Regions from separate parts of the Homo sapiens genome. Here all the other regions are linked to region 1. Evidence: fine-mapped expression QTL. A gene starts in region 1. Each other region holds a variant in brackets. All regions are shown on one strand. Distances are between the middles of the regions. Region 1 holds the start of CCNDBP1 (cyclin D1 binding protein 1). Region 2 overlaps GANC (glucosidase alpha, neutral C). Region 3 holds the start of LOC124903605 (small nucleolar RNA U13). Region 4 holds the start of TGM5 (transglutaminase 5).

The links. PIP is the estimated chance that this variant, and not a neighbour inherited with it, causes the effect. A credible set is the group of variants that fine-mapping cannot tell apart.
Region 2: its variant is the best candidate, but not a certain one, in a credible set for the expression of CCNDBP1 in monocytes (Fairfax 2014, PIP 0.87).
Region 3: its variant is the best candidate, but not a certain one, in a credible set for the expression of CCNDBP1 in thyroid (GTEx, PIP 0.54).
Region 4: its variant is the best candidate, but not a certain one, in a credible set for the expression of CCNDBP1 in whole blood (TOPMed, PIP 0.83).

The regions. Positions count from the first base shown.
Region 1 is chr15:43,180,866-43,189,009 of GRCh38, reverse strand. It overlaps CCNDBP1 (cyclin D1 binding protein 1), which reads right to left and starts at 3,607. Exons shown (of 11, transcript NM_012142.5): 1 at 3,403-3,607; 2 at 3,131-3,190; 3 at 2,777-2,856. The coding sequence starts at 3,511. It overlaps TMEM62 (transmembrane protein 62), which reads right to left. Exons shown (of 14, transcript NM_024956.4): 13 at 7,711-7,829; 14 at 3,866-4,750. The coding sequence ends at 4,424. LOC124903478 (a long non-coding RNA gene) reads left to right here and starts at 3,123. Exons shown (of 2, transcript XR_007064604.1): 1 at 3,123-3,241. RefSeq lists an enhancer at 3,002-3,101 and silencers at 3,272-3,361, 3,582-3,881.
Region 2 is chr15:42,316,649-42,324,648 of GRCh38, reverse strand. It overlaps GANC (glucosidase alpha, neutral C), which reads right to left. Exons shown (of 24, transcript NM_198141.3): 11 at 2,629-2,864. Among named protein-coding and RNA genes, the nearest start is that of CAPN3, 39 kb to the left of the region's middle. The variant C/T (reference allele first, on the strand shown) is at 3,948.
Region 3 is chr15:42,707,544-42,715,687 of GRCh38, reverse strand. The region is part of intron 26 of STARD9 (StAR related lipid transfer domain containing 9); the gene reads right to left. It overlaps LOC124903605 (small nucleolar RNA U13), which reads left to right and starts at 6,896; the gene lies at 6,896-6,996. The variant T/A (reference allele first, on the strand shown) is at 4,230.
Region 4 is chr15:43,266,916-43,275,059 of GRCh38, reverse strand. It overlaps TGM5 (transglutaminase 5), which reads left to right and starts at 8,132. Exons shown (of 13, transcript NM_201631.4): 1 at 8,132-8,144. It also overlaps the pseudogene ATP5PDP1. The variant G/A (reference allele first, on the strand shown) is at 4,235.

The sequences.
Region 1 (8,144 bases):
ACCTCCCAGGTTCAAGCAGTTCTCCTGCCTCAGCCTCCCAAGTAGCTGGGATTACAGGCACCCGCCACCACACCCAGCTAATTTTTTGTATTTTTAGTAGAGATGGGGTTTTGCCACACTGGCCACACTGGTCTCGAACTCCTGACCTCAGGTGATCCACCTCCCTTGGCCTCCCAAAGTGCTGAGATTACAGGTGTAAGCCACTGCACCCGGCCTAGGGCAGATATTTCTACAGCATCATCAAACATTTTCTGAAGTCCTGGTATGAAGGCAGGCCTACTATACTCATCACATACCAGGGAGGAGTTAGCTATATAGTAGATATTGGGCTGACAACTCAATAAACCATTAAGAAACAGCAGGAAAAAACTTATTCCTGATACTCTGTATCCCAAGATATTCATGATATCTTAGACCAGGAGCTGGCAAACTGTGGTCCTCAGGCCAAGTCAGGCCCCACTGCCTGTTTTTGGAAATGAAGTGTATTGGGACACAGCCATACTCACTGGTTTTAATGTCTGTAGTTGTGTTTGCTCTATAAGGGCAGAGTTGGGTAGTTGGTTACAAAATCTAAAATATTTACTAACTGGCCCTTTACAGAAAAGAGAGGGAGGGAGAGAGACAGACAGACCAACTGACAGACCATGGTTATTAAACCATTAACCAGGTCTCTCTCTTTTTTTAACAGAATCAGAATATGTAACTAAAGGTAACTAGCATGGACTCGACAATGCTCCATGTTAACTATTTTCCTTCTAGGTGGTCACTGGCTTTCTCATCTTCCTTGTCCTCAATTTTCTGTTAAATTCTAAGTCAATACTATACAAATGTGGTCCAGGTTGGAGCCAGTCTACAAACTGTTTGTGACCAGTCAGGGATGAGATAAGCAGTGACTGAGAGTGTTTAGAAACTTTTATGGCAATTTGACATTTATTCAACATCCGAGCACATAATTTTATTAAAGTATCATTCCATACAGATTGGAATTTAAAAAACAACAACAACAACAAAAAAAAACCAACAACCACCCATCTTTTAGTAGGACTAAAGTGGTGAGATCTCAAGAAGGCAATGATGATTCATGTGTATGTATGTGTGTATATACACACATATATACATATATGTATTTATTTGAATATATGTATATACTTGAATATTTGTATATATTTCAAATAAATCCAAATTCTAACTTTTCATCTATGAGTGAAACTACTGTCCTGAGCATGTATAGAAAATCAGTTCTATGCTGCCTCCTTGTGGTATCTTACTTGCAGTGAGTTTTAGCAGCAAGTCCTAAGTGCATTTGAAAGAAAGGGGTTAGCAGATAAGAAAAATAAGGTAATATTAACTACTCTTTTTGAAATAAGTATTTTCCATGAATCTTTTGAAGTGCTCTCATACAATTCATCTCTTGTTTCCTCATCACAAATCTCAAAGGTAGGCCAGGCACGGTGGCTCACACCTGTAATCCCAACACTGTGGGAGGCCAAGGCAGGCGGATCACTTGAGGTCAGGAGTTCGAGACTAGCCTGCCCAACATGGTGAAACCCCGTCTCAACTAAAAATACAAAAATTAGCCAGGCGTGGTGACAGGTGCCTGTAATCCCAGCTACTCGAGAGGCTGAGGCAGGAGAACTGCTTGAACCCGGTAGGCAGAGGATGCAGTGAGCCCAGACTGTGCCACTGCACTCCAGCCTGAGTGACAGAGAGAGACTCTGTCTCAAAAAAAAAAAAAAAATCTCAAAGGTATGTAGGAGGAGAGAGTTTATCACTGTAGGTACATGCAGCAGAAGATATTTATATCCTTTCCAAACACCTATATATGTAGACTGAAAAATTAAAACAATTGACTATGAAAATCAAATAAGGCAATGAATATGCCATTTTAAAAGAATCTTACTCCTATATTAAGCATACACAACTCTAGAAAAACTGAGCATAGAGCATACGTGGTCATAGCCAACATGTTTACTTTCATTAGTTTTATAATAAAGGAATATTTAAAATGCATAAATCTTTGTTCTAGCAATTCTACTTCCGGGAATTTTTTCTACCAATATACACACATACACAGAATTAGGTAATTCATCACGACACTGTTTGCAGTAATTCTAAGTTGGAAGGTCCAGAACAGTGTTTATGTATCATTTGTGTAAAAAGAAGCTGACACATACAGATAAATGTATATGAATGTATATATGCACAGAATATACGTGGAATAATGCAAAAGGAACTGGGGGAGACAAAAATGAGAAAGTGGGTGGAAAGGTAAACTTAACACACTTTGATATCTGTTGAATTTTGTACTATCTACATATGTTACTGATTAAATATAAAAAATAATATAAAAAGGGTATTATGCAGTATAACAGAATAGGTAGCTTAGACATCAGATAGACCTTGATTTAAATTCTAGCCCCCCTGCTTTTTTTTAAATCTTAAGCTGAGCTTCTGAGCCTCCTTGCTCATCTGTCAGATGGCCATCAAGTATGTGAAAACACCCAGCAAATAAAAAGTGCTTAAAAAATTATCAGAAGGGAAACAACCAGGATAAACTTCAGACTGAACCAATATTTATAAGACCTGCCTACTCCGCGCCAGGAACTGCACTTGGCAATTCGGTCTTCACAACAATCCTGTGAAGTAAAAACGGTAACCTCACTGGACAGATGAAGAAAAGAAATCTCCTGGCGTGCGTGCAAAAGGTGGAAAGAAAATTAGAGGATTCCTAAGGTGTAACTCGGCAGCCCAAGGATTCCACGAAAGTGAAGCCCACCTGTGGAGACGGCAGTGGAAGCTGAGAGAAGACTATGGTCAGAGTCGTGGCTTCCCTTGACACAGTCACAGCTGCCTCATCTGGGGGGTGGCCGAAGAGGAGGCAGGTGCCAATACGTTAGTGCTGCACGGACTTGGAAGACTTCCCTTACCGACCGAGACTTCTCAAAAACACTTCCCGAATGTCGAGGTTAGAATTCTATTTCACCCTCTCAGGTGCTGAGGTGGGTAAGGTACCTCACAGAAAGGATGCAGCGGGGGAGAGCAGTCCCCTCCGTGGGGGACAGCGGGAGGAAAAGGGGTCGGGACGCTGGAGGAACTGAGGCAAGGGGAGCCCGGAAGGAGGCGCACTCACTGAGTCTTCTCCAGAACATCTCTCGATTAAACTCCTCGGTGGTCTCCTGGGCTTCGCCGACTTGTGGGTGTGGCGTGTGGGGGCCGAACGGTGGCGAATGGAAAAGCTGAGGTAAGCGGAGCCACCTCCCTCGCCCAAGCCCGGCTCCCCGCCGCCGCCCCAGCCCGCCCTCTCCGCGACCCCGAGCCCGGCCTCTCCCCGACCCCGAGCCCGGCCTCTCCCCGACCCCGAGCCCGCCCCTGCCGTCGCCCGTTCTAACTCCGTCAGCTCACCCCGCACTCGAGGCAGGAGCAACCGCAGCTCCTCCGCCAAGTGCCGGAGCTGCTCCAAAGGCGAAGCCAGGGTGGGGACTGCGGCTGCAGGTGCAGTTGCGCTCGCCATCTCAGTCGCTTGCCGAAGGCCGCAAACACAGGCCTCCGCTGCCACTGCCGGAGCCGCACTGCGACAGCCGCTCCACTTCCGGGCCACAGCGTCAAGGGCTCGTTTCCGTCAACAAGCCGTCCAGCCCCGTCCCAGAGGCCCTGCCCTGCCTCCTCCCGCCACGAGGCCCGGCCCCGCCCGAGGTCCAGCACCACCCATCCCGTTATCAGAGACCAGGCCTGGCCCCGCCTCCTCCCGCCCCGCCCTGTCCCCTGAGGTACAGCACCAACCATCCCACTCTCAGAGGCCAGGACAGGCCACGCCTTCTCTTGCCCCTTAGGCCAGGCTACACAAGCAAGCCTCAGGCTCACCGTCTTTCTTATTCATCATTCATTCATTTATTTGATTAGTTGAAAACACTTCCGACTAAGGAAGCAGAGAGCCCACAATCCTGTGGGAAAACAGGCCTGGGAACTAATATCTCAGGGGTAGTGAGGGTCGGGCCCAGATCCTCAAAGGTTCCCTGCCCCTGAAATTGCACCTTTGACAGCTGCTGAATTCCAAGCACAGCGGTAAGTGCTTTACATGGGGTAACCCTAAAAAACACACTGGGCCTCAGACACTCCCGTACACACACCCAACCTCTACCCTGTGGATGTCCTAGATAAGGGTTTTCTCTTCACAAAGGTAAATCAACTCTTTGCCTCCTTAGGGAGGGAAGGAATAAAGGCATTATTTTTGAGACTTTTCTGCAGTCCATTCTGCAGGTATCAGTAGTGGGTAATCCCTCCAACGTCCAGGACTCCAAACGAGCAGCTGCTCCCTAAAGCTCACCCACCAATCCTGGCCCTCCACCTGCTACTGGGGTAGAGGCCTGGGCTACAGACACAGAGGCTGGGCTTCTGCCCAGCTGCCAGTGGTGAGACATGGCCTTCAGGAGCTCAGGTGGCTTTTTAACTGCACCATGAAGATTCCAAACTTGGTGGAGTTCAGTGTCCACACATAACGAATGAGAACAGGTGTCAGCAGTGTCAACCAGGTCCGCAAAGGGGAGAATAAAAAAGCTAGGGTGCCGTATGTTGCATAAAGAAAGTAGCAGGAATAAACCTGCCAGATGTACAGCAGTAGCATAAGTAGGTGAACAGGCATAATTTTCAAGTATTTTCTTTGATGGAGATGAGACCTGAAGTTGTGACCAAAGCACCGCTGCAGCAAGCTCCAACACATGTAAGCCATCAAGGGGATGTTAAAAAACGCCAGCTGGAAAAGAACAGAACCATAGCTTACTCCCAAGTCCTTGGAAGAGTTTGGTCTTAATAATGCATTATTAGTGGATCCTAAGACTATGCTGCTATCTGTCTTGGCGTTAGCTAATTTACTTCAAGCACAGTTGCTTATAACACAACAGCTGACTTGTGGCTAGTTGTGTATTTGCCCATGTCCTTTTATTCATCTTAGAGGCAGGTATCATTTAATTTATGCTGAAGTCCCAACTTGTAGTACAGTATCATATACACAGTTAATACCCAATGGTGTTAAGCTGGAATTGAACTGAGTAAATGTATACACACACATACAACAACCCCTCTTTTTTGGTGGAGTGAGGGGAGGACTTGGCTATCAGTATTTTTTTTCTTACCTCCATTTTTGTTTGAGGTAGCATGATAAGTACTGGAATATAAATTAGAGTATCTAAATTATAATCCAAGTTGAGCTGCTGTATGATTCATTCATTTAACAAATATTTATTGAGCACCCATTATGTAGCAGGCATGAGCTAGGCTCCAAGTTGGGGACACAATGGCAAACAAGTTAGAAAAGGTCCGTCATAGAGCTTACATTCTAACAGGGAGAAGACAGACAAAAAAAAAAACCAAAAAATATAATTACAGATCGTGATTAGTTCAATGAAGGAAAGAACTGGGTCATGAGAAGGTAACTGGGAGAAAGGCTCTCAGAGGCCAGAAGGACAAGAATGAATCAGCGGAGGGAAGTGCATTCTAGGCAGAAGGAACAAATGAAAAGCCCAGAGGTGGGAGAGGTCTTGGCCTCTTTAAGGAAGTGCATGCAGAGCATGAGCCAGGTGGAAATTGGGGCAGTCGGCAGGACCCAGATCACTGCTCTGCTTCAAAGCATTTCAAGCTGAAAAGTAAGTGAGCTGATTGTAAAGTTTTTAAAAGAGCACACTGGATGCTCTGTATTAAGCTGAGAGTAAGGAGGCAAGAATATCAGGGAGAAGACCCAGGCAAGAAATAATTACAACTTAGATTAGGAAAACAGAAATGGAGAGAAGTGGATGGATTCAAGATATGCATTGGAAGCAGATCAAATAAGGTAGAGCTTGCTGGTGAAATAGATACAGGGTATGAAGGAAAGGGAATAATTGAGGATACATCTTGGAGAAATCAGGTGAATGGTGGAGTCATTTATTAAAACTGGAAAAACAGAGAGGAACAGGTTTGGGGTGGAAATAATGTTCCTATCAGAGAGACATCACATGAAGTTGAGATGCCTGTTAGACATCTGTGGCCATTGGATATAGAGGCACTTGAAGTGCAGAGAAGAGGTCTAGATCAGAGATATAGATTTGGGATTCATGGGTCTGGATGATACATAAAATCCATTATTAGTGTACTATTTATTAGAATATGAATGTAAACATTTACAAAGGAAAAAACCCTGCCTTTTGGTAAGGCTCAGGATTCATTTGGTATGAGAGAGCTCCTTAGAGACAGCCTCCATCAACATAATAGAAAACTGCAATGAGGCTGGGTGCAGTGGCTCACGCCTGTAATCCCAGCACTTTGGGAGGCCGAGACGGGCGGATCACCTGAGGTCAGGAGTTCGAGACCATCCTGGCCAACACAGTGAAACCCTGTCTCTACTAAAAATACAAAAATTAGCCGGGCATGGTGGCAGGCACCTGTAACCCCAGCTACATGGGAGGCTGAGGCAGGAGAATCACTTGAATTAGGGAGGCAGAGGTTGCAGTGAGCCGAGACGATGCCATTGCACTCCAGCCTGGACGACAAGATCGAGACTCCATCTCAAAAAAAAAAAAAAAAAGAAAAGAAAAGAAAAGAAAACTGAAATGAACCCAGGACCTACTCATGTATATAATGCTGCTATGCAGAGAATATTCTGGACTTGGGTCAGTGTTTGCTAGGCAGAAGTCTTTCCTACTTGGCTGTCTCTAATCCTGTTGGATCATGTTCTACTGCCCTGTTAGAAGGCCATGAACTTATTTTGAATGTTTTTGGATCTCTTCCAAAACTTCAAATTTTGGTCCACTAACTCCATTAGGTGAGTAAAATAAAGAAACTGTTAGATAAATACTTTTCAAATCTGTTTATGTAGTTTTTCTATGGATCAAGGTTCTTTGTGTGTTTATTTTAAAGGAATCAAATGTAAACCTAATACATCAGTTTGTTTCCTAAACAAGTACATTGCTAGGAAAGCCCAGGTCTGGTTTTTGAATAATGCAGTTTCCACTGAATAACTGACCCATTTTTTTAATGTGTCTATTTTTTAGTTTCCTCCCTCTAAAATATTTTCCTTCTTCATCATCATAATCAGTTTTGGTTTACTCAGAAATCTAAAACTTTTTCTACCATAATCCCTTGTTTCATTTTTTTGTCAATGAAAAAGCACAGTGAAACAAAAACAACAAAAACTTCTTTCACCTCTTATAAACACTTCATGACAAAAATGTATTTTAGGCTAGGCATGGTGGCTCACGCCTATAATCCTAGCACTTTCGGAGGCCAAGGCAGGTGAATCATCTGAGGTCAGGAGTTCGAGACCAGCCTGGCCAACATGGTGAAACCCTGTCTCTACTAAAAGTGCAAAAATTAGCCAGGCATGGTGGCACATGCCTGTAATCCCAGCTACCCAGGAGGCTGAGGCAGGAAAATCGCTGGAACCCAAGAGGTGGAGGCTGCAGTGAGCCAAGATTGCACCACTGTGCTTCAGCCTGGGCGACAGCAGAACACTGTCTTGGGGAAAAAAAAATGTATTTTAGATGTTTACATGAGAGTGGTGGAAGGAGTTTAGGAAGCACTTTAAAAGCAAATGAAGCTTTTATTAAAGACTGCCCTGCAAGTAAAGTAGGAAAGATGATCTATGGTACTTAATTCTGGATTTTGGATTTAATTCATAACTGTTATGCAATTAGTCTGACAAGTCCAAGATGTTCTTAAATTGCTTTTCTGACTTCTTACCTGGAGAATTCCAATTATAAATGTTATGCTGCCTTGTAGGAAATGTCCATTAACAAATATCCCAAAGGAAAAGCAGCAACCAAATTTGCCATCAATGATTTCACCAAAAAACCATGGACCTAAAAGAGGCAATGGACAAAAAAGGAGGAGATTAAATAACTATAATTCTGATTACATATATCATGAGATACATTTATAGGAATAAAGCAGAGATATGAGACTAGCCATCTATAAGCATTTTATTTCATAGCCTTCCCTCTTTGCTAGTCTCTGTGTTGTACTTGATATCCTTGCTAACCAACTATTTTTTGGATTGTGAAATTGTCTTAGTAGACACTATACCTAGAACAGATATGTGTCTTATAGATTCTAGAAACAAAAAAAGCACACTCACATTTTTGAAAATTCCATTGCAATAATAACCTCAATATAAT
Region 2 (8,000 bases), 860 kb after region 1:
CTGTAGTATCTATTAGAATTTCCTTCGTTTTAAAGGCTGAATAATATTCTGTTGTACGTATATACCACATTTTGTTTACATATTCGTCTGTCAATGGAGTTGCAACCCAAGCAGCTTGGGTTGCTTTGACCTTTTGACTACTGTGACTAATGCTGCTATAAACATGGGTGTATAAATATCTTTTCAGGTTCCTGCTTCCAGTTCCTTTGGGTATATACCCACAAGTGGAATTGCTGGATCATACAGTAATTCCATTTTTAAATTTCTGAGGAACTATCATATTGTTTTCCATAACAGCTGTACCATTTTGCATTCCTACCAACGGTGCACAAAGATTCCAATTTCTCTACATCCTTGCCAACACTTGTTATTTTGTTTTTTTTTTAAATAGTAGTCATCTTAATTATGTAAAATGGGATTTCACTGTGGTCTTGGTTTGCATTTCCCTAATGATTAGTGGTGTTGAGCATCTTTTCTTGTGCTTGTTGGCTATTTGTGTATCTTCTTTGGAGAGATGTCTATTCAAGTTCTTTGCCCACTTTTTAACTGTTTTTTTTTGTTGTTGCTGAGTTGTAGGAGTTTGTTATATATTCTGGATATTAACCCCTTATTCAAAAACTTGTAATGTTTCCAAATGCATACAAAGCAGTTTACACAAAGGTCCCAACCTTTCTGGTCAGATCCTCCACTATTAGAACCCTCACATGCCTGGCTGTCAAACTTGCCTGTGCACTGCTTTCCGAACACCCCTAATGCTCCTTCCTCTGGCTGCATTGCCCTCTTCCCTCTCCCTGCTTACTCATTAGTTAGGGACATGCTTCAGGGCTCATCTAAAATGCACTTCTAGGCCAGATATGATGGCTCACGCCTGTAACCCCAGCACTTTGGGAGCCTCAGGTGGGCGGATCACCTGAAGTCAGGAGTTCAAGACCAGCCTGGCTAACATGGTGAAACCCCATCTCTACTAAAAATACAAAAATTAGTTGGCCATGGTGGCACATGCCTGTAATTCTAGATACTCAGGAGGCTGAGGCAGGAGAATTGCATGAACCCAGGAGATGGAGGATGCAATGAGCTGAGATCGCACCATAGCACTACAGCCTGGGTGACAGAGTGAGACTCTGTCCCCAAAAAAAAATTAAATAAAAAATAAATAAATAAAATAAAATGCACCTCTGGAACAAAGCCCTGCTTAAGTCTTGAGGATACAATCTTCTCTTTCTTGGCCTGCCCCTACCCTGACCTTTCTTTGGCCCTTATGTTACTTTCCTGTATTGTAGTTGGATACTTGCCTTTTCTTCACTCACTGTAAGACCACAAGGAGCTCATCTCTGTATACCCTTCAGCACTACCATAGCATCTTGAAGGTTCAAGGCCTCATTAAATAACTACTTATTAAGGACAGAAGATCTGGAGTCAGGCAGACCATGGTTCATATTCTTGCCATGCTATTTATTCACTGTGTGCCTTTGTGTAAATTTTGAAACCAGTCTAAGCCTCAGCTTCTTCATCTAAAATATGGGGTAACAAGACCTACCTTATAGTTTTGTCATCGCTGGATGGAATAATGTGTTTTATCATATTGTCTAGCCCATAACAGCTTGATATATGGTAACTATTTATTAATTGGGAAATTAGGAGTTAACTGGATGGGCTCTGGCTGTCTGTGAAAAGCCTGGTGGGGAGGTCAAAGGAATGGGTTGAAAAGTCAACCTTACTTTCAAGGAGAGGGACTTTATTCACTCACATGATACACATAGGGTTTCGCCCCCCTTCTCCTCTCTCCATTTTCTTCTCTCCTTCCATCTTTTCATTATTGCTATTACCACCACCACCACTCCTGGAACTGGAAAGCAGCATTATACATGTTCCAGGGGCTTCTCTCCCTCCCCATTTTCTATTTCCGTTCTTTTCTTGGCCAGATTGACAGGTGGAGTCCACCAGGGAAGCATGCAGGAAAAACAGTGTAATAAAGAATTTGATACCATATTTGATATTTGACTTTTAAGCGTTTTCAAGCCCTGCTACTCCCCCCTTACCCTTCGGCCCGTATCTGGACAAGCTGACAAAGAAAGCTCTAGTGCCCCCTCCTTTGGTGCCAGCAGGGGGTTCAAACTATCTAAGCCTCAGCCTGCGTGCAAGAGCCCTTGCCCTGTCCCCACCCGCTAACCACCATAAAAGCTGAGCCAATCTCCTTTCTCAGTTCTCTCAAGCCATTTTCAAACCAGCTTGGGAGCCACCCCTGCTCTCCCCAGAAAGCCTCATTATATGAGTAATAAACTTTTTAATATACTCTTAGTGCAAGTGTGGTGTCACCAATTGAGACATGGAAACTAAATTTTGAGTGGGGGGATCACATTACTACAGGGTGGCCACAACAAACGGAACTGAAAATGCTAGACCCCTTCTTCATTATGGTGACCTAGATAACTAAGCCAGGAATGGATGGGGTCATCACCTTTTTACCATTCACTTTCTCTCTTATCACAGTGACAATTATATTTGAATCTACTATTTTCACAGCCATTTTTTATCAGATGTTTCTCCACCACTGATGTGCCAAGGCAAGTCTAAAACATTTTTTAAAACTCTGTAATTAAAAGGTTCAGAAATGTTGGCTTATTTTACCTTACGCTTTTTGCTCCTGAGCAGCTCTTGCATCCTCTTGGGGTTTGGGAATCTGTTTTTGTCCCAGGTGAAGTACCTCTTGCCCTCAGTGTGCTCTATGTCCAGCCACATGGCATCATAAGGAATGTCATGCTCATCAAACCCTGCATCCACTGCTTTTACATCCTGCTCATCTTCATAGTTCCAGCGGCACTGGTGGTATCCCAAAGAGAAAAGAGGGGGCATGGCTTGTGTGCCTAAAAGAGGGAGATGACAACTGAGTCAACTGCCATGGCAATGACCATTATTCATTTGATAAACATTTCCTGAATGTCTACAGAGTATTCAGCACTGAGCTTATGCTTAGAATAACAAGGAGAAGAAAGCACAGTCCTTGCCTTTAAGGAAGTGACAACCTGGCTAATGAGGCAGGAGTGTAAATAAAGTGCTCTGCCCTGAGGTATAATTGCCAGGTTAAGCATCAGTTTAGTGCTACCAGAACACAGAGAGGTTAATAAATTCTGCCTGTGGTGAAGTATAGGGTCTTGAAAGGCTTCACAGAGGAGATAAAACCTGGTTTGGACCTTGTAGAGTTAGTGGGAATATACCAGACAGGAAGAATAGATAGAGCATTCCGGGCACAGGGAACAGAAAAAACACAGAGGCAAGGAAGTACATGACAGGCTTACAGAAAAATAAATATTCAAGGGTATCACTGTGAGAGAGACCAGTAGAAGATGAAACTGAATAGGGTCAGATTGTCAAGGGCCCTGTAATTGAGGTTAGGAATTCTGAATCTTGTCTTATGAGAAGCCATCAAAAGTCTGGCAAGATGTAATCTTAGCAGACCTATATTTTAGAAAAATTAAGTCAGGGTGCAGCATTGGGACTCACTTAAAGGTAAAGAAACTGAAGTTGGGAAGAAGTTTCAGTAAATTATTATCAAAATGTTTACTGATAACGTGAAGGACTTCTGGTCAACCACTTGCATGTATCTCCTTCCCCTCCTAAAGTCACACTAAAATCTGAGTAAAGAGAAGAAAAAAGGAAGAAAGCCACAAAAACAAAGAGAATGGGAGTGGAGTAATTTCAACAAAAATTTGGCAGGTGGCAGGCAGGAGCAGGGTGGTAACTGTTGGCCAAAGCCAGGGAAGCTCTCCCCAGAGTGGTATTGAGGAGGCTATTGACAGAAGAGCTCACCCTGCTCCCAAACACCAGTAGACATGCCCACTCTCAAAACTAGAGTGGAAGCCTCATCTAGGCACACAGAGCCTCACCATGAAATATGAATGGAGGCAGGTGTGGTGGCTCACACCTGTAATCCCAGCACTTTGGGAGGC[C/T]GGGGTGGGTGGATCACTTGAAGTCAGGAGTTCGAGACCAGCCTGGCCAACACGGTGAAACCCCGTCTCTACTAAAAATACAAAAATTATCCAGGTGTGGTGGCGGGCACCTGTAGTCCCCACTACTTGGGAGGCTGAGGCAGGAGAACTGCTTGAACCCAGGAGGTGGAGGTTGCAGTGAGCCGAGATTGCACCACTGTACTCCAGCCTGGGCAACAGAGTGAGATTGTGTCTCAAAACTCACATTTGAGCAAAGTCTCCAAAATCAGAGACAGTGACTCAAATAAGGAAACAGAAAAGGATCTCCAAGAAAACAGGAACAATGCAAGGAACCAAAGTAAATATCAAAACATTATCATTAGTATCTCTAGAGAGATGAAATAAGGTATTATACCCTTAAACAAGACTAGGATAGCATAAAACAAGTGTAGGTTGAGTATCCCTAATTTGAAAATCCAAAATCTGAAATACTTTAAAATCTGAAACTTTTTTTTAAAATTAATTAATTAATTTATTTTTAAGATGGAGTTTAGCTCTGTCGCCCAGGCTGGAGTGCAGTGGCACGATCTCAGCTCACTGCAACCTCCGCCTCTGGGTTCAAGCGATTTTCCTGCCTCAGCCTCCCGAGTAGCTGGGACTACAGGTGCATGCCACCATGCCCAGCTAATTTTTGTACTTTTAGTAGACAGAGGGTTTCACCATGTTGACCAAGCTGGTCTCAAACTCCCGACATTAGGTGATCGCCCATCTTGGCTCCCCAAAGTGCTGGGATTACAGTCATGAGCCACCAAATCTGGCCTCTAAAATCTGAAACTTTTTGAACACCAACATGACACTCAAAGGAAATGCTCATTGGAGCATTTTGGGCTTTGGATTTTCAGATTGGGATGCTCAACCAGTAAGTTTAATGAAAATATTCAAAATAATCCCAAAACTGAAACACTCTAGAGTCCCAAGCATGGAATACTCAACCTGTATACAATTTATAAAACAATAAATGTCATTTAACGTGGTGTGCTATTTTGAATTCCTCATCAAGTTTTAGAAGTGGGGTAAAAATACTTAGAAGATCTCAGTGCTTTGGAAGGCTAAGGCAGGAGGATTGCTTGAGACCAGGGGTTTAAGACTAACCTGGGCAACAGAGCAAGACCCCATCTCAACAAAAAAATTAAAATAAATAAATAAAAAGAATTAGCTGGGCATGTAGCACATGCCCACAGTCCCAGCTACTCAGGAGGCTAAAGCGGAAGAATTGCTTGAGCCCAGGAGCTAGAGGCTGCAGTGAGCCATGGTCACGCCACTGCACTCCAGCCTGGGCAACAGAGTGTTTTTTGTTTAAAAACAAAAAAACAAAAAAGAGGCTCATCAGACTTGAAATTATACAGAGCAGCATTGATCATGAGTTTGTCTGACTGAAACAGGTTAAATAAATTATGTTACCAGCAAATTTGCTACTTGAAAAAAATAGGATGTACACATTTCAGGATAATAAATGTTTTGCCATTGCTTTGCATAAAATGAAAACAAAAACCAAGGAACCATCAGAGGATAAGAAAGAGCTCCTTGAAAGCAGAAACATGATAGCATAAATGGAAAGCCTAGAAGATAAAATTGAGAAAATTGCTCAAAAACTAGGCAAAAAAGGAAAAGGAGATTATAAAATCCGTAGAGTAGAAAGAAAAAAAGGAAGGGAAAAATTAATCTAAGGAATAATACAAAACAGTTTCTCAGAACTGAAGGACACAATTCTCAGGATTGAAGGGGTCCACATCTAACATCCAGAACAATAATTATTTTAAAAGACCTAGGGCCAGGCATGGTGGCTCACACCTGTAATCCCTGTAAAGCACTTTGGGAAGCTGAGGTGGGAGGATCCCTTGAGCCTAGGGTTTTAAAACCAGCCTGGGTAACCTAGGGAGACCCTGCCTATATAAAAAATGAAAAAATTAGTTGGGCATGGTGGCACATGCCTGTTAAGTCCCATCTACTCAGGATTCTGAGGTGTGATGATCGCTTGAGCCCAGGAGCTTGAGGCTGCAGTGAACCATGATCACACCACTGCACTCCAACCTGGGCACAGAGCAAAACCCTGACTCAAACAAACAAACAAAAGATCTCCATCAAGGGATTTTATTACAAAATTTCAGAATACTGGAAATTTGGAATGTTAGTGATAAAGAGAAGGTATTTCAGAGAGAAAAGATAGATTATATACAGAGGAACAAAGGAATAGAATTAAGAATGGTTTTGGAGCAAGAAGGTAGAAGACAGTAAAAGAAATGCCTTCAAATTCTGAGAGAAAGAATATTCAGTCTTGCCAGGCAAATTATCAGCCAAAGGTAAAGGTAGGAAAAAAGATGGTTTCATACCTGCAAGGAAGCAAAAAGAGTACCTCCAATGCAAATGTTCTTAGGAAACTACCAGAAGATGCTACAAACAAATAAACACAGCAAGGGAATAAACCAGAAAAGAGAAAAACAGGGAACTGAAGAAAGGAGGGATACAACACCAGAAAACAGCAAAGGTAAGTTCTGAGATGAAAGCTGTGCAGGGAACCTAGAGAACAATGGTCCAGATGGGAGGAGGAAGATGAAGAGCTCTGGTAGGGAAGGAAGTCTCCAGGGAAAGAAGTAGACTGGATAAAGTAACAGACACCCTTGAGCATGTGAAAAATGTAAACATTGAATATTGATTTAACCAAAAATTGTGATATAACTAGATTGGATGGGAGACGGAGGAGGGTATGGTATATGATTGAGCTAAACCCTCAGCAGGAGTCAACAAATAATCTTTACTGTCTTTGAACATGGTGGGAGATCCAGTATTTTGGAAGTGCTTTATCATAAACCAGCATTCTCACTAATAACAATGTTGAATGTAGCTGCAGGTGGGCTTTGATAGCACTTATTCCTGCATGGGTGCCCATATCCATAAATTGTCATTCCTCCCATCACAATTGGAACTGAACATGGGCTAGACTTAGCTTGCTTTTAACAACTGAATGCAGCAGAAATGATGCTGCAATACTTTTAACAGCTTTACTGAATTCACGTACCATGCAATTTACCCATCTAAAATGCACAATTTAATGAGGGTTTTTATGGCATATTACATTATTGATTCTTAAAAATTGTGTTAAAATATATATAGCAAAATTTGCCATTTTAACCATTTCCAAGTGTCCAATTCAATGGCATTAATTACATTCACCATGTAGTACAAGCATTACCACTATTTCTAAAACCTTTACATCACCCCAAGCAGAAACTCTGTAATCATTAAGCAGTAACTCCCTAACACTCACACCTCTCAGCCCCCTCTCATCTCTGTCTTGACAAATTTGCATATCATAGCTACTTCATATAAGTGGATTATATAATACTTGTCCTTTCGTGTCTTATTTCATTTTCCATATTTTCAAGGTTCATCCATGTTGCAGCATGTATCAGAACTTCATTTCTTTTTATAGCTGAATAATATTCTGTTACATGTATATACCACATTTTGTTTATGTGTTCATCTTTGATGTGCACTTGGATTGTTTCTACCTTTTGGCTATCATGTGTGGGCGAAGGATTACCCAGGTGCCGAGGCAAGAGACTGAAGGCACAAACTGTAGCAGTATAATAAAGAAAATAGTTAGAATAAAGAATAGTTATAATACAAATTAGATATAGAGATGATCATGGACAATTATCAATCATTAGCGTAAACATTATTAATCATTAGCTTTTAATATTACTCTTTGTTGCATTACTAATATAACCTAGAATAACCAGCGGGTATAGGGTCAGGTACTCAAGGGACATTGTGAGAAGTGACCTAGAAGGCAAGAGGTGAGCCCTCTGTCATGCCCGCATAAGGGCCGCTTGAGGGCTCCTTGGTCAAGCGGTAACACCAGTACCTGGGAAGGCCCCGTTAATTAGCAGATAGTGAAAGGGAGTCTCCTTTCCTTGGAGGAGTTAGGGAACACTCTGCTCCACCAGCTTCCTGTGGGAGGCTGGATATTATCCAGGCCTGCCAGCAGTCATCTGGAGGCTTAAACCCCTCCCT
Region 3 (8,144 bases), 470 kb after region 1:
ACAATACAAAAAATTAGCCGGGCGTGGTGGCGGGCGCCTGTAATCCCAGCTACTTGAGAGAATCGCTTGAGCCCAGGACGCAGAGGTTGCAGTGAGCCGAGATTGTGCCACTGCACTCCGGCCTGGGCACAACAGAGAGAGACTCCATCTCAAAAAAAAAAAAAAAATTTGTAAAGACAGGATCTCACCCTGTTGCCCATGTTGGTCTTAGACTCCTGGGCTCAAGTGATCCTCCCCTCTGCGGCCTCCCAAAGTTTTGGGATTACAGGCGTGAGCCCCTGTGCCCGGCTTCTCTCATCTTTAAAACCCTCCTCTTCACTCTCCTGCCCTTCACAGATAAGCTTCTTGCAACCAGTCTCGCTGTTTGCCATCTCCCACTTCTCACTGACTTCTGAACCCACCCTAATCTAACATTTGCCCTCGTCACTCCTCCAAACAGCAGTCACCAAGGTCCACGGTGTCCGTGTGGCTGGATCATGTAAATAACTTCTGTCCTACATTTCCTGAGTCTCTCAGCAAGCTTTGACTTAGCCAGTCTCTCCCTTTCACTGACAGAATCACTTCCAGAGGCCCCGGCTTCTCATCTCTCTGAGTGGTTTTTTTTTTTTTGTTGATACATCCTCTTCAACTGTTGACATTTTGGGATTCTTTCAAAATTCAGGCCTAGGCCCTATTTTCTCACTCCATAATATATTCCTAAGTAACCTAATCTGTTCCCAGTGCTGTACAAAAATAAATATCCAAAAATTATTGGATACTGACTTCCAAAAATAAATATCCATAAATTAATCAATAAGTACTGCTGAGACAAATGGGCAGCCATCTGAAAAAAAAAAAGATTGCATCAGAGACCCATTTCACAGACATACCAAAATGGATCCTTTATGCTTTATGGATCAAAGATATACTGGGAGATGGAGGAGTATAAAAGTATTACAAGAAAATATAATTCAAAAGATAACTGTGCCTGTAGTACAGTTGCCTGGGAGGCTGGGCGGGAGAATCCCTTGAGTCCAGGAGTTTGAAACATGAGCCACTGTACCTGGCCTCAAAAATGGTTTAAGAAATTCTCAACAATTGAATCAAGGAAGAAATACAAACAGAAAATGCAAAATTATATTAAAAATGAAAATACATGTCACAAGCTATGGAAAATGGCTGAAGCAATGCTCAGAGGGAAATTTTTAGCTTTAAAAACATCCATGAAAAGAAATAAAAATAAATGAATTAATACTATGAACTATATGCCAACAAATTCAATAATGTAAATTACTGACTCAAAAGTTAAACTGACTCAAGGAGAAATAAAACATCTTAGTACAGGCCGGGCGGGATGGCTCACGCCTGTAATCCCAGCACTTTGGTAGGCCGAGGCGGGTGGATCACGAGGTCAGGAGATCGAGACCATCCTGGCTAACATGGTGAAACCCCTGTCTCCACTAAAAGAATACAAAAAAATTAGCCGGGCATGGTGGAGGGCGCCTGTAGTCCCAGCTACTCGGGAGGCTGAGGCAGGAGAATGGCGTGAACCCAGGAAGCGGAGCTTGCAGTGAGCTGAGATCGCACCACTGCCCTCCAGCCTGGGGGACAGAGCAAGACACCGTCTCAAAAAAAAAAAAAAAAAAAAAATCTTAGTGCATATTTTATTTACAAATTTAAGATACTAAATTAGTGATCAAAGAAAATTTCAAGATAGCTTCATTAGTAAAATCTACCAAACGTTTAAGGAATTAATACCAATCCTTCCCAGATTCTTCCAAAAATCAGGAGGGAACACTTGCCAACTCATTCTATAGGGCCAGAATTACCCTGACACAAAAACTGGGCAAAGACATCACAAGTAAACTATAGAGTAATATCCCTTATGAATACACACACACAAATCCTCAACAAAATACTAGTAAACTGAAATCTAGCAACACATAAAAGATCATATATCACGAGCAAGTAGGATTTATCACAGAAACACAGGGCTGGCTCGACATACAAAAATCAATGCAATACACTATATTAATAAAAGAAAAGACCCAGTAAGATTATCTCAGTAGACACCAGAAAAAAGTATTTGACTAAATCCAGTACCTTTTCATGATAAAAATATTCAAAAAACTAGGAATATAAGGGAATTTCCTCAACCTGATAAAGGTCAGCTATAAAACATGCACAGTTAACATCATACTTAATGGTGAAAGATGGATACCTTCCTCCTCAAATCAGGAGTAAGACAAGGACATCGGCTCTCACCACATCTAATAAACAGTGTACTGGAGATTCTAGCCAGCACAACTGGCAAGACAAAAACAAAAAAGGCAGATGACATGATCTTGCATATAGAATATCTTAAGGAATCTATTTTAAAAAACCATCAGAACTAATAAATGAATTCAGCAAGGGTATAGGAGACAAGAACGATATATAAAAATCAATTTTATTTCTGCATAATAGCAATGAAGAAACTGAAAATGAAGTGAAAACAATTCCATTTATAATACTGTCAACAGGAATAAAATACTTACGAATAAGTTTAATAAAATAAGCATAAAACTTATACTCTGAAAACTTCGAAACATTGTTGAAATTAAACCTAAATAAACACAATGACATCCCATATTCACAGAGCTAAAGACTTAATATTAAGATAGCAATGCTCCCCCAATTGATCTACCCATCAAAGTAATCCCAATGAAAATCCCAGCTGACTTCTTTGCAGAAATTGACAAGCTGATCCTAAAATTCATATGGAAATCTGAGAAACCCAGAATAGTCAAAGTAATCTTGAAAAAGAACAAAGTTGGAAGATGCCTACTTCCTGACTTCTAAAGGTACTACAAAACTACAGTAAAGAAGACAGTGTGAGGCTGGGTGCAACAGCTCACACCTGTCATCCTAGCACTTTGGGCGGCTGAGGTGGGAGGATCGCTTGAGGCCAGGAGTTTGAGACGAGCCCAGGCAAGATAGCGAGACCCTGTCACACACACACAAAAAGTGTGGTACTGGCATAAGGATAGATATGTAGATCAATGGAATAGAATTAGGAGTCCAGAAATAAAGCCATATGTCTATAGTCAACTGATCTTTGACAAGGGTGCCAAGACAATTCAATGGGGGAAATAATAATCTTTTAAACAAATGTTGTTGGGAGAACTGGATATCCATATGGAAAAGAATGAAATTCAACCCCTAGCTCTCACCATATGTAAGAATTAACTCAAAATGGGCCAAAGAATGCAATGTGGAAGCTAAAAGCATAAAACTCTTAGAAGAAAACATAGGCATAATCTTTGTGATCCTGGATTAGGCACTCGTTTCTTAGATATGAAACCAAAGCACAAGGAACAACAATAAAAAATAAACTGGACATCATCAAAATTAAACTTTTGGCTTCAAAGGGCACTATATCAAGACAGTGAACAGACACAAAGAATGGGAGGACATTTTCTGTGAATTATATATTTGCTAAGGGACTCTTAAAAAGACAAATAACCGAATCTTAAAATAGACAAAATATCCTGCTAGATATTTCTCCAAAGAAGACATATAAATGGGCAAAGGCACATTTATATATATATTATATATTATATATTATATATTATATATATATATATAATATATATATATATATAAAAAGATGCTCAACACCATTAGCCATCAGGGCAATGGAACTGAAGCCACATAAGGTACTACTTCCGATCCACTAGGACAGCTATAATCAAAAGTAGGTCATAGCAACTGTTGGTGAGGACGGAGAGAAACACACTGCTCATATACTGCTCGTGGGAAGGTAAAATAGGACAGCCACTGTGAAAAACAGTCTGGCAGTTCCTCTATGATCCTGCAACTCAACTCTAGATACATACCCAAGAGAAATGAAAACATATCCATACAAAAGCTTTACAGGGATGTTCATAGCAGCAATATTCATTAGTAGGCAAAAAGCACAAAACAACCTAAATGTCCATCAACTGAAGAATGGATAAATAAAATGTGGTTTATTCATATAATGGAGTATTACTCGGCCATAAAAACGAATGAAGCTCTCATATATTTTACAACATGAAGGACCCCTTGTTGTGGGTTAAATCACTGTCTCCACTGAAAATATGTTGAAGTATTTTCCCAGTATCTGTGAATTTGACCTAATTTGAAAATAAGGTCCCTGCAGATGTAACCAAGTTAATATAAGATAGTACTGGATTAGAGTGGTCCCTAAATCCAATGACTAATGTCCT[T/A]ATAAGAAGGCTATGTGGAGCTGGGTGCAGTGGCTCACGCCTGTAATCCCAGCACTTTGGGAGGCTGAAGCGAGTGGATCACCTGAGGTCAGGAGTTGGAGACCAGCCTGGCCAACATGGTGAAACCCCGTCTCTACTAAAAATACAAAAAATTAGCGGGGCGTGGTGGCGGATGCCTGTAATCCCAGCTACCTGGGAGGCTGAGGCAGGAGAATTGCTTGAACCCAGGAGGCAGAGGTTGCAGTGAGCCGAGATCGTGCCACTGCACTCCAGCCTGGGTAACAGAGCAAGACTCTGTCTCCAAAAAAAAAAAAAAAAAGTTATGTGGTAGCTTACGATGGTAATTTCAGCACTTTGAGAGGCTGAGGCGGGAGGATCACTTGAGGTCAGGTGTTGCAGGTAAGAATGAGCTGTGATTGCACCACAGCAGTCCAGTCCAGGTGACAGAGACCCTGTCTCTTAAAAAAAAGTTAAATTAAAAAAAAAAAAGAAGGCTATGTGAAAACACGGGGACAAACAGACAGGGAGACAGACACACACACACAGAGAGAGAGAGAGAGAGAGAGAGCGCACAAGTGAGAGCAAGAATGTCATGTGAAGACAGAGATAGAAATGGGAGTGAATGCCAAGGATTGCTGGTAACCCATCAGAAGCCTGGAAAGAGGCTTGGAGCAGATCCTTCTCCCAGGAGCTTTCTGAGGGAGTATGGTGCTGCTAACACCAACATTTTGGACTTCTAGCCTACAGAACTATGAGAGCATAAATGTCTGTGGTTTGAAGCCACTCTGTGAGTGGTAATTTGTTACAGCAATTCTAAGAAACTAACACAATCCTGAAAACATTCCGCTAGGAGAAAGAAGCCATCAAAAAGGATCATATATTGTGTAATTCCATTTATATGAAATGTCCAGAATAGGCAAATCCATGGGGACAGAAAGTAGATTCGTGGTTGCCAAGGGCTGGGGAATGGTGAATTTAGGGAATAACTAGGGGGGTAATGAAAATGTCCTAAAATTGGTGATGGATACACAACTCTATGAATATACTAAAGCCAATGGATTATAACAATAAAAAAATCAATTAAAGAAGTGCTCAAGGGCCAGGCACGGTGGCTCACGTCCGTATTCCAACACTTTGGGAGGCTCAGGCGGGCAGATCCCTTGAGCCCAGGAGTTCAACACCAGCCTGGGCAACATGGTAAAACCCCATCTCTAGAAAACAAAAATACAAAAGTACCCGGGCATGGTGGTGCACACCTGTACTCCAGGTACTCAGGAGGCTGAGGTGGGAGGATCACCGGCGCCCAGGGAGGTCGAGGCTGCAGTGAGCCATGATTGTGTCACTGCACTCTAGCCTGGGCAACACGGCAAGACCCTGTCTCAAAAAAAAAAAAAAAAAAAAGACAGGGCATGTCAAAAGGACACAAGACCCAAGCTGAAAGAACTCCAAATAATTAAAGCTGGAACAAGTTGAACAATGAAATTAATAATGACAGTACTGTATTGAATTACGCCCCAAAGAATATGATTCCAAACTGAAAAAAATTAAATAGTTGAATAAATTAAGTGGCGGAAGAAGGGACTGCACTTTCTTAGAGAAAAGTTCCAATTAATAAATGTAGAATAAATGAGGGAAATACAAAATTCCCTAAAATATCACAGTAATAATTTTTACAGGTAAGATACACCAGTAGACACTAAAATCAGTGGATGAAAGTTTGAGGAAAAACAGGATTTTCCATCATCTCCAATATTTTTTTGGGGGGCTGCTGTGGGGCATGGAGTCTTGCTCTGTCACCCAGGCTGGAGTGCAGTGGCGCCATCTCAGCTCAATGCAAACCCCGCCTCCCGGGTTCAAACTATTCTCCTGTCTCAGCCTTCTGTGTAGCTGGGTCTACAGGCGTGTGCCACCATGCCTGGCTAATTTTTGTATTTTTAGTGGAGACGGGGTTTCACCATGCTGACCAGGCTGTTCCTGAACTCCTGACCTCGTGATCCGCCCGCCTCTGCCTCCCAAAGTGCTGGGATTACAGGCGTGAGCCACCTTGCCCAGCTAGTCTCCAAGATTTTTTGAGACAGGGTCTCCCTCTGTCCAAGGCCAATGATGTAATCATGGCTCACTGCAGCCTCCATTCCCCTCCAGGCTCAAGCGATCCTCCCACCTCAGCCTCCCAAGTAGCTGGGACCACAGGCATGCACCACCAACATAGCTTTTGTGTGTGTGTGTGTAGAGATGGCGTATCACTATGTTGCCTAGGCTGATCTCAAAATACTGGACTCAAGTGATCCTCCTGCCTCAGCTTTCCAAAGCACTGGGATTACAGGCGTCAGCCACCACATTCAGCCATGTTCATTAATCATAAAGGACAATATAGCAACATTCAGTGGAGAGACCCCCAACCACCACCTTAACATCAAAGTTCACATCACCAGAAACAGGACATGTCGGTATCCGGTAACCTCTGATACAATGCACCGAGAATAAGGTATTGCATGAGACATACTTATACTATAAAACTATTTGTTGTCTAAAATTTGAATTTAACTAGCATCCTGTATTTTTCTTTGCCTAATCTGTCAACCTTCAGAAGGGCAAATCACTTCTATGGTATTTTTTTTGCCAAAAACGCATAACTTCAATCCAACCATAAGAAAACCACAGACACGATCCTTTTGTAGTTCGTAAGCATGACGATCGGGTTTTCACATACATGTCTCAGAAGTGCCTCTCTCAAACCTTGTTACGTCAGCACATTACCTGTCTTACATGAAAAAAAAAAGAAAAAAAGCAAGAAACAGCAGATAAATACATTCCAAAAAATTACTAACCACGAAGCAAGAAAAGACTGAGAAACTATCACAATAGGAAAAAGAAACTGATAACAACATACACAGAAATGAATAAGTTAGAATCAAAAGGGGCTCCAGGAGAGATGAAATATCTAAACCAAAGGCTGGCAAAACTTTTTCTGTGGGGAGCTAGATACTGAATATTTAAGGCTTTGTGGGCCATTTGAGTAGCTGCAGCTACTCAACTCTCTGCCACTGTAGTGGGAACACAACCATAGAAGACATGTACATGAATGGGCATGACTGTATTCCGGTAAAACTTTATTTACAAAAACAGGAAGCAGGCCAGATCTGGCCAAAGGGCCATAGTTTGCTAACCCCTGATCTTAACAGACCATCTTCCATTGAAGAAGTTTTTCAAATAACTAATCCCCTACTGAAACACCAAGCCTTGTCAATTTAAAAGGATTATTATATCAAACTTTAAAAGATGATTCAAAAGAAATTTTTTTTTTTTGAAACAGGGTCTTGCTGTGTCACCCAGGCTGGAGTGCAGCAGCATGGTCACAGCTCACCACAGCCTCGACTTCCCAGGCTCAAGCAATCCTCCCACCACAGCCTCCTGAGTAGCTAGGACTACAGGTGTGCAGCACCACCCTGGCTTTTTTTTTTTTTTCTATGTTGCCCTGTCTGGACTCAAACTCCTGGGCTCAAGCAATCCTCCTGCCTCAGCCTCCCAAAGTGCTGAGATTACAGATGTGAGCCACCGTGTCTGGCTCTCAAATTTTTTTACTTTTCATCCCCATTTCACACTCCCATCCAAATCATTCTGATGTGCTTAGAGTGTATCTTTTTGTTTGTATGTGTTCTTGCAAAAAGTGATTGTTGTGTATGTTGTATTTATATACTGTATATGTTGTTTAATTCACAAATAGTAATATATCTCATCTTATGGGCGGATCATGAGGTCAGGAGTTCAAGACCAGCCTGGTCAACATAGTAAAAGTCCGTCTCCACTAAAAATACAAAAAAATAAGCTGGGCATGGTGGCAGGCACCTGTAGTCCCAGCTACTGGGGAGGCTGAGGCAGGAGAATTTCTTGAGCCCAGGAGTCGGAGGCTGGAGT
Region 4 (8,144 bases), 86 kb before region 1:
CATCCACTCCTCACCTGCTCCGCGGCTCTATAGTTTTGACTTCTTTCAGTCTTCCCTTCCCTTCCCCTCCTCCTCTCCCTCTTTCTCTCCCTCTTCTTCCTCCTCTTCTCCCTTTTCCTCCCTTTTCCTGCTCTCCTTCCTCCTCTTCCCCCTCCCTCTCTTCTCTGTATTTTTTTGTTTGCCCCTAGTCCTCCTTCTCCTTCCCTTCTATTTTCTCTCTCTCTCTCTCCTTTTTTTTTTTTTTTTTTTTTTTTTTTGAGATGGAGTCTGTCACTGTTGCCCGGGCTGGAGTGCAGTGGTGCGATCTCGGCTCACTGCAACCTCCACCTCCCGAGTTCAAGCGATTCTCCTGCCTCAGCTTCCCAAGTAGCTGGAATTACAGTTGCCTGCCACCATGCCCAACTAATTTTATTTTATTTTTTGTATTTTTAGTAGAAACGGGGTTCCACTATGTTGTCCAGGTTGATCTCAAACTCCTGACCTCGTGATCCGCCCTCCTTGGCCTCTCAAAGTGCTGAGATTACCGGCGTGAGCCACTGCACCCGGCCTATTTTCTCTCTTGGGGTGGCCCCCAGCCCTGCCTGCACGCAGCTGCTTGGGTCAGGAAGGGTAGGAGCCTGCATGTCCTCACTCCGCCTCATGTGTCAGCTGCACCCATCCCCATGAGGTACCATTGGGCATTTCCGTGGTGCCCTGTCACTGCCCTGTCATGCTGTGTTCCAGGTGGCTCCCTGCCATCAGGAGAGGGCCACCCGAGCTGCCCTTGCAGGAATGTGAAACCTCGCCTCTCTGCCAAGCACTGAGTCCTCATGTTTAGTCACGGCCCTCCTTTCCTATCCCTGGCTGTGTCACTGGAGAAGAACAGCAGGCAGGCTTCCTACTGGCCTGGGAAAGACCTCTCAGGGGTATGTGGATGTTGGTCATTTCTGCCTTTCCAGCCTACCTTTCAAATTATTTTCCCTGTCCCCAACTAAAAATTGACTTTAAAAATTATTATACTCTGGGCCGAGCATGGTGGCTCACGCCTGTAATCCCAGCACACTGGGAGGCTGAGGCAAGCTGATCACCTGAGGTCAGGAGTTCGAGACCAGCCCAGCCAACATGGTGAAACCCCATCTCTACTAAAAATACAAAAAGTAGCTGGGTGTGGTGGCGGCACCTGTAATCCCAGCTACACGGGAGGCTGAGGCAGGAGAATCTCTTGAACCCAGGAGGCAGGGTTTGCAGTGAGCTGAGATCCCACCAGTGTACTCCAGCCTGGGGAACAAAAGTGAAACTCCATCTCAAAAAGAAAAAAAAAAATTATACTCTGTATCCTCCCCCAACCCCCTCCCCTCCTCCTCCTTCTCCTCCTTCTTCGTTTCACTTAGGCAAGCCTGTCTGGCTTTCTTTTTCCACCTCAGTTGAATAAACTAGATCATCTCAAAGCTCCCTTCCAGCTGGACATCCCCCAGGGCCTGGAACGCTGGAATTCCTTCATGCCCACTGCTATGGTGCCCCCTGAGACCAGCTCCTAAGCAAGCCTCCCCTGGCCTCACAACAACAGAGTAAGGCTGGCCACCCAGGCCAGGCAGTGGCTCCTGCAGACAAACTGTGACAAAAGAAATGTTCCACTGTGGAGCAAGGAAGCAGCACCAGCCAGGCAGCACCCTTGGCTCCTGATTCCTGGTCTTCCCATCCCCCCATGGTGTGCACAGAATCTGTCATCTTCAGGTCCTTGTGGCTGATGGTTTTGGGGTTCACGACATCCAGCATTATTGTGTGATACAAAGCAAAGAGCTCTGGACTCCCTCATGGTGTGACCCTGGTTCCCCCAGGGGTAAAATGATAACATAATAATAGGAGTGTCAGCCTGACTTTCCCTCATAGGGTTGCTGTGAGGATCAAATGAGGCAGTGTATTCTAAAGTGCTTTGCAGCCGGGCACAGTGGCTCACTCTTGTAATCCCAGCGCTTTGGGAGGCCAAGGCAGGAGGATCATCTGAGGTCAGGAGTTAGAGACCAGCCCAGCCAACATGGTGAAACCCCATCTCTACGGAAAATACAAAAAATTAGCCAGGCATGGTGGTGTGCACCTGTAGTCCCAGCTACTCAGGAAGCTGAAGCAGGACAATCGCTTGAACCCGGGAGGTGGAGTTTGCAGTGAGCCAAGATTGTGCCACTGCACTCTAGCCTGGGCGACAGTGAGACTCCATCTCAAAATAATAAATAAATAAATAAATAAAGTATTTGTATATATAAAGTATACATAAATAAGTATGTATATTTATTTTACATAAAAAATATAAAGTATTTGTAAGCTGGAGTCATCACATTATTTAACTTCAAACTATACTACAGGGCAACAATAACCAAAACAGCATGGTACTGGTAGAAAAACAGGCCTATAAACCAATGAAACAGAATAGAAAGCCCAGAAACAAGGCCCCATACCTACAACCATCTGATCTTTGACAACACTGACAAAAACAACCAATGGGGAAAGGACTCCCTATTCAGTATATGGTGCTGGGATAACTGGCTAGCCATATCCAGAAGATTGATACTGGACCCCTTCTTTACACTGTATACAGAAATCAACTCAAGATGGATTAAAGACTTAAATGTAAAACCCAAAACTATAAAAACCCTGGAAGACAATCTAGGCAATATCATCCTAGACATAGTATCAGGCAAAGATTTCATGATGAAGATGCTGAAAGCAATCACAACAAAAGCAAAAATTGACAAATGGGATCTAATTAAACTTAAATGCTTCTGTACAGCAAAAGAAACTATCAACAGAGTAAACAGACAACCTACAGAATGGGAGGAAATATTTGCAAACTATGCATCTGACGAAGATCTAATATCCAGTCTCTATAAGGAACTTAAACAAATTTACAAGAGAAAAACAACCCCATTAAAAAGTGGGCAAAAGACATGAACAGACACTTTTCAAAAGAAGACATACATGTGGCCAACAAGCAAATGAATAAAAGTTCAATATCACTGATCATTAGAAAAATGCAAATCAAAACCACAATGAGATACCATCTTATCTTACACTAGTTAGAATGGCTATTATTAAAAAGTAAAAAACAAACAAACAAACAAAAAACAGATGCTGGCAAGGCTGCAGAGAAAAGGGAACACATATACACTGTTAGTGGGAGTGTAAATTAGTTCAGCCATTGTGGAAAGCAGTATGGTGATTCCTCAAAGAGCTCAAAACAGAACTACCATTTGACCCAGCAATCCCATTACTGGGTATATACCCAGAGGAATATAAATCATTCTATCATAAAGACAAATGCATGCGAATATTCATTGCAGCACTATTCACAATAGCAAAGACATAGAATCAACCTAAATGCCCATCAATGACACATTGGATAAAGAAAATATGGTACATATATACCATGGAATACTATGCATCCATAAAAAAGAATGAGATCATGTCTTTTGCAGGAATGTGGATGGAGCTGGAGCCCATTATCTTTAGCAAACTCACACAGGAACAGAAAACCAAACATCTCATGTTCTCACTTAGAAGTGGTGAGAGCTTATGAACACAAAGAAGGAAACAACAGACACTGGGGTCTACTTGAGGGATGAGGGTCGGAGGAGGGAGAGGAGCAGAAAAAAGAACTATTGGGTGCTAGGCTTAGTATTCAGTGGTGAAATAATCAGTACAACAAACCCCCTTGACATGAGTTTACTTATGTAACAAATCTGCACATGTACCTCCGAACCTGAAATAAAAGTTTAAAAAAAATTTTTTTAATTGAAGTGCTTTGTAAATTGTGAAGTGCACTCACAGAGGCCCTCTACCAGTTTAATCCCTTCTCCAGGGTGACTGTCTCTGTTTCTAGGGGTGAGAAAAGAAGGGGAAAGAGGAATCCATTGGCGTCTGCCAGCTGTGGCTTCCCTGTGCAATCGTCTGTGGGGCACCTCCTCACCCTCCCTCAGACCCAGGCATCCAGCCCGTCACAGCCTCTGATTTTATAGGCAAAGAAACTGTCACCTGCCCAGGGGCACAATGGAAATTCATGGCAGGGCCGGAATCAGCACCCAAGTCTCTCTGGGTCTTAGAAAGGTCTGACCCCATCTGTAAAATTAAAGAAAAAAAGGAAGTTCTGGAGGTTCTCCACCCCCACCTAGTGAGCACTGGCCTGCCCCATGCGGATGGCAGATGTGTCCTCACTTCTCTGTTCAGGTGTCCCTCCCCTGTGGGCACAGCCCTGCTTCCTTCC[G/A]GACAGGAAGGTGCTCATCAACCCTGCTTAGCCTCCCTCTCTCTCCCTGTCCCCTCCCCTGTGCTGAGGGACAAGCTGCTCTATCAGAGCTGCCTCCCTCTCCCCAGCACCCTCACCCACATACCCTCTGACTAATGGCTCACAGAAATCGAATGAGGGGCTGAACCTATAAACCAGCTCCCTAGGCCCAGAGCCCAGGTCTTATTCAGCCCTACGGTCCAGGCAGAGGAGCTGGCCAGGGTTTTCCTGACCCTATGAATGGGCTTCGTGCCCCTGCGGTGCTTCCGCCTCCTCTCTTGTCCAGTGGCTACCTTAAACAAGACTTCTCTAAGTGCTCCTGAACATGTGAGGTCTTTTGGGGGAGGCCCAGGCCCTCCACAATGGGTGTGAGTTCCCTGCCCTCTCCTCAAGGTTGGGGCATGGGCAAAGCTGCCAAGAGTTCAGCCACTCAGGCTGGCACAACTCAAGGGACTTTACTCAGAGTGACTGCCTGATTGCTCCAAAATCCTCTCAACTGTTCCCAGATGCTTCAGGCTGGCCTGGGCACCACAAAACAGACTGGTGTCCCGCTGGCCATTGGGCACTTTCTCCTTTGGCCACCACAGTTACCCTAGCTGCACTTACCTTCCTGTTCCCCCTCTCCTGCCTATGCCCCTTACACTCTCCTGCCTATGCCCCTTACAGTCTCCTGCCTATGCTCCTTCCTCCTTCCCAGCTAACCCATCTCAGCATGTGGCAGTGGGTTCAGGTATTCATCCATTTGTTTATGTAGGGACCATCTTTTAATTCATTCACTCTATCGGGCAAGAAATACGAACTGGAAAACCAACTATGTTCCAGATATTGCAGCAAGCAAGCACTTATGAAGCACCCAGGCTCTGGAGTCTGACGGCTGCATTCAAAATCTAGCTCTACCAGTTCTTTGTGAATGATCTATTTAATGTCTTTAAGCCTCGATTTCCTCATCTGTAATGTAGGAACAATAACAGTAACTAACTATAGGGATGTTGTAAGACCAAGTGGGGTCATGCATATAAATACCTCAAAATAGTATATGTTATTAAAAGCTACTGCTGGTTGTATTAGTCGTTCTGCTACTATTAGGCACTGTCATTCTTAAGCACTGGGAACGCTGTTAATAAGACACAGTCCATGCCCTCCAGGGTGATTGGGGGAAAGACAGATAAGTATTTATAATGTTGAGGCATGAGTTGGCTAATAGGAAATACAGAAGAAGCAGCCCCTATTAGAATCCGGGTGCAGCAGAGGAAGGGTGTCAGGAAGACTTCCTGGAGGGGTGATGCTCGAGCCTGGGTACCAGAGAAAGTAGAGTGAGAGGAGGACATTTCAGAAAGAGAGAGGCTGATGCATGCAAGAGAGAGGGAGAGAGGGAGGTGCGGGAGAGAGGAGGTCAGCCTTCCTGGCCTCCAGGTGGGGAGGGGAAGACCCTCAAGGCTTTGAGGGTGATGCTGAGAAGTCTGGACTTTACCCACTGTGGGATCTTAAGCAGGGGAGCAACCTGATGGAATTGGCACTTCAGAAAAATCACTGGTGACTCATTTGGAGAAAGGGTGAATGGGAAACTGGTTAGGAGTTGTCCAGGTAAGCGGGGGCTTCAGTGAAGGCAGAGCAAGGGGGGCACCGTTTCAGGACAGCATCAGGAATTGGGCTGGACTGATGGGCTAAAGGGAGATCAGGAAGCTGGAGAAGTACAAGGTGGCACGCAGGTGTCCCCTGAAGTGATGGATGGACAGTGTCCTCACTCATCAAGACCAGACGTGCAAGAGGAAGGGCAGGTATTTTGAGAGGAAGGAGCAAGGGGAAGAGTTCCATTTGGACTCCTTGGCTGTGAAGTGTCCAAGGTTTCCCCCAGAGGAGCTGTCCAGCAGAGGGTGCCGCAGTACACAGTTCTGGGGGTCCCCAGTGTCACGCGGGAGCCAGTGGAGTGAGAAGAGAGGAGATGGGGACAAATCCCTGGGAGGCACCAGTTCAAGAAGGGAAAGTCTGTGATGGGGACTGAGAGGAAGAGGACAGTGGGGATAAGGAGGCAGCTAGACAACCAAGAGAGAGAAGTCACCTAAGCCCAGGAGGAGTGGACAGTACCCGCAGGGCTGCAGGAGGCCTTGCAGGGTAAGAGCAGGAAAGGCGCCCAGAGCCCAGCCCTCAGAGCTGGGAGGTGAGCGTGGCGTCGAGGCAGCCGTGGGACAGAAGGCAGTCTGCAGCAGGTGAGGGGTGGTGGGAGGCAAAGCAGTGGGCAAGGAGCTTGGCTGAGAAGTGGAGTTGAGAGAAAGGGCAGGGGCTGCTAGGGAAGCTGGGGATGAGAGTTGAAGGTGGATGTGCTGTGTTAAAATAGTGAACTGCATTTGTGCACATATACCCTATAAGAGGTGAGTGGGGTGTGGGCCATGGGCTGCCATGGTCAGTGAAGTATACCAAGATGGCTGGGTGAAAACTTGCTCTAAAAACCATTGACTGGGTAGCTTTTGCAGAGATGATACCCCAAAACCAAAAGGCCATTGCTAATTATCTGAAATCCTGGAATGAGACCCTCACCTCCAGGCTGGCTACTTTACCTGAGAATCCACCAGCTATTGACTGGACTTACTACAAGGCCAATGTGGCCAAGGCAGGCTTGGTGGATGACTTTGAGAAGAAGTTTAATGTCCTGAAGCTTCCTGTACCAGAGGATAAATATACTGCCCAGGTGGATGCTGAAGAAAAAGAAGATGGGAAAACTTGTGCTGAGTGGGTGTCTCTCTCAAAGGCCAGGTTGGAGAATATGAGAAACAGCTGGAGAAGATGAGGAACTTAATACCATTTGATCAGATGACCATTGACGACTTGAACGAAGCTTTCCCGGAAACCAAATTAGACAAGAAAAAGTATCGCTATTGGTCTCACCAACCAATCAAGAATTTATAAAATTAAGTCCAGGAAGAAGCCCTGGCCCTTATAGTACACATTCTGGACATTAAAAATAAAAATAATTACATAGGTTTTAAAAAAGAGCTGAGTGGGGACAGAGAGAATTGAAAATACAGGAGGGAGGACAATGCTGGTGAAAGAGGTTCCCCAGGGAGAAGGACCCAGAAAGCAGGGGATGTGGGGAGAAGTGCCCCAGAGCACAGAAAGACAGGGTAGGCATGGGGGTCCCACCCACTCCACAGGCAGAGCCCTTCCCCCTCCTGCCCTCTCTCTCCTTCCACCTGCGCTTTTCTCCCTATGAAAGGGCTTGTGCCTTTCTTACTAGGATCAAGGCCCTTGCTCACCGGCATTCCCACCCTCTCACCTATTTCCACACCTCCTCCACAAATCTTCCCAATTTTTCTTCCTCTATTTTATTTGTGATTATTTGCTTTTATTTGTGATTTGTCTTGGACCTGCCAGGTCTCATGCAAGACAATGCCACTGCCAAAGCTAAATACAGTGAAATCATACCGAAGGAGATCCAGACAGAGAGGGTTCTGTTTGCATTTAATGTTCAGGAAGTGACTTTTCAGGATAAAAGAGAGGCCTTGGTTACCTAGCAGGGTTCTCGGCTCAATGAGGTGCTTTAAGCTGTGAGCAGAGTCTTGGGACCCTGATGCTCCTTCCAGCAGCCCCCTGCATCCCTCTGGCGGGCCCATCAGCTCGCTTCTCCCTCCTGACTTCTCCACCACAGCACAGCACCTCCCTGGGAATGCCCTATTGCTCAAGAGCTATCAAAGGCCCACACGGCATAAGGCTGTGACAGTTCATCAGCCTCCACACCTCCTTTCAATTCAGCAACACTGCCAAGAAAAACCTGAGGGCAAGTGAGCAAACCAGTTGTGATCTGCTCGGTAATCAGGTGGCAGTGCAGCAGTCCAGCCCCGCCTTCGGTTCTCCTGGAGGCTTCCAATGGAAGGGGAAGTAGACACTCTGGCACCAG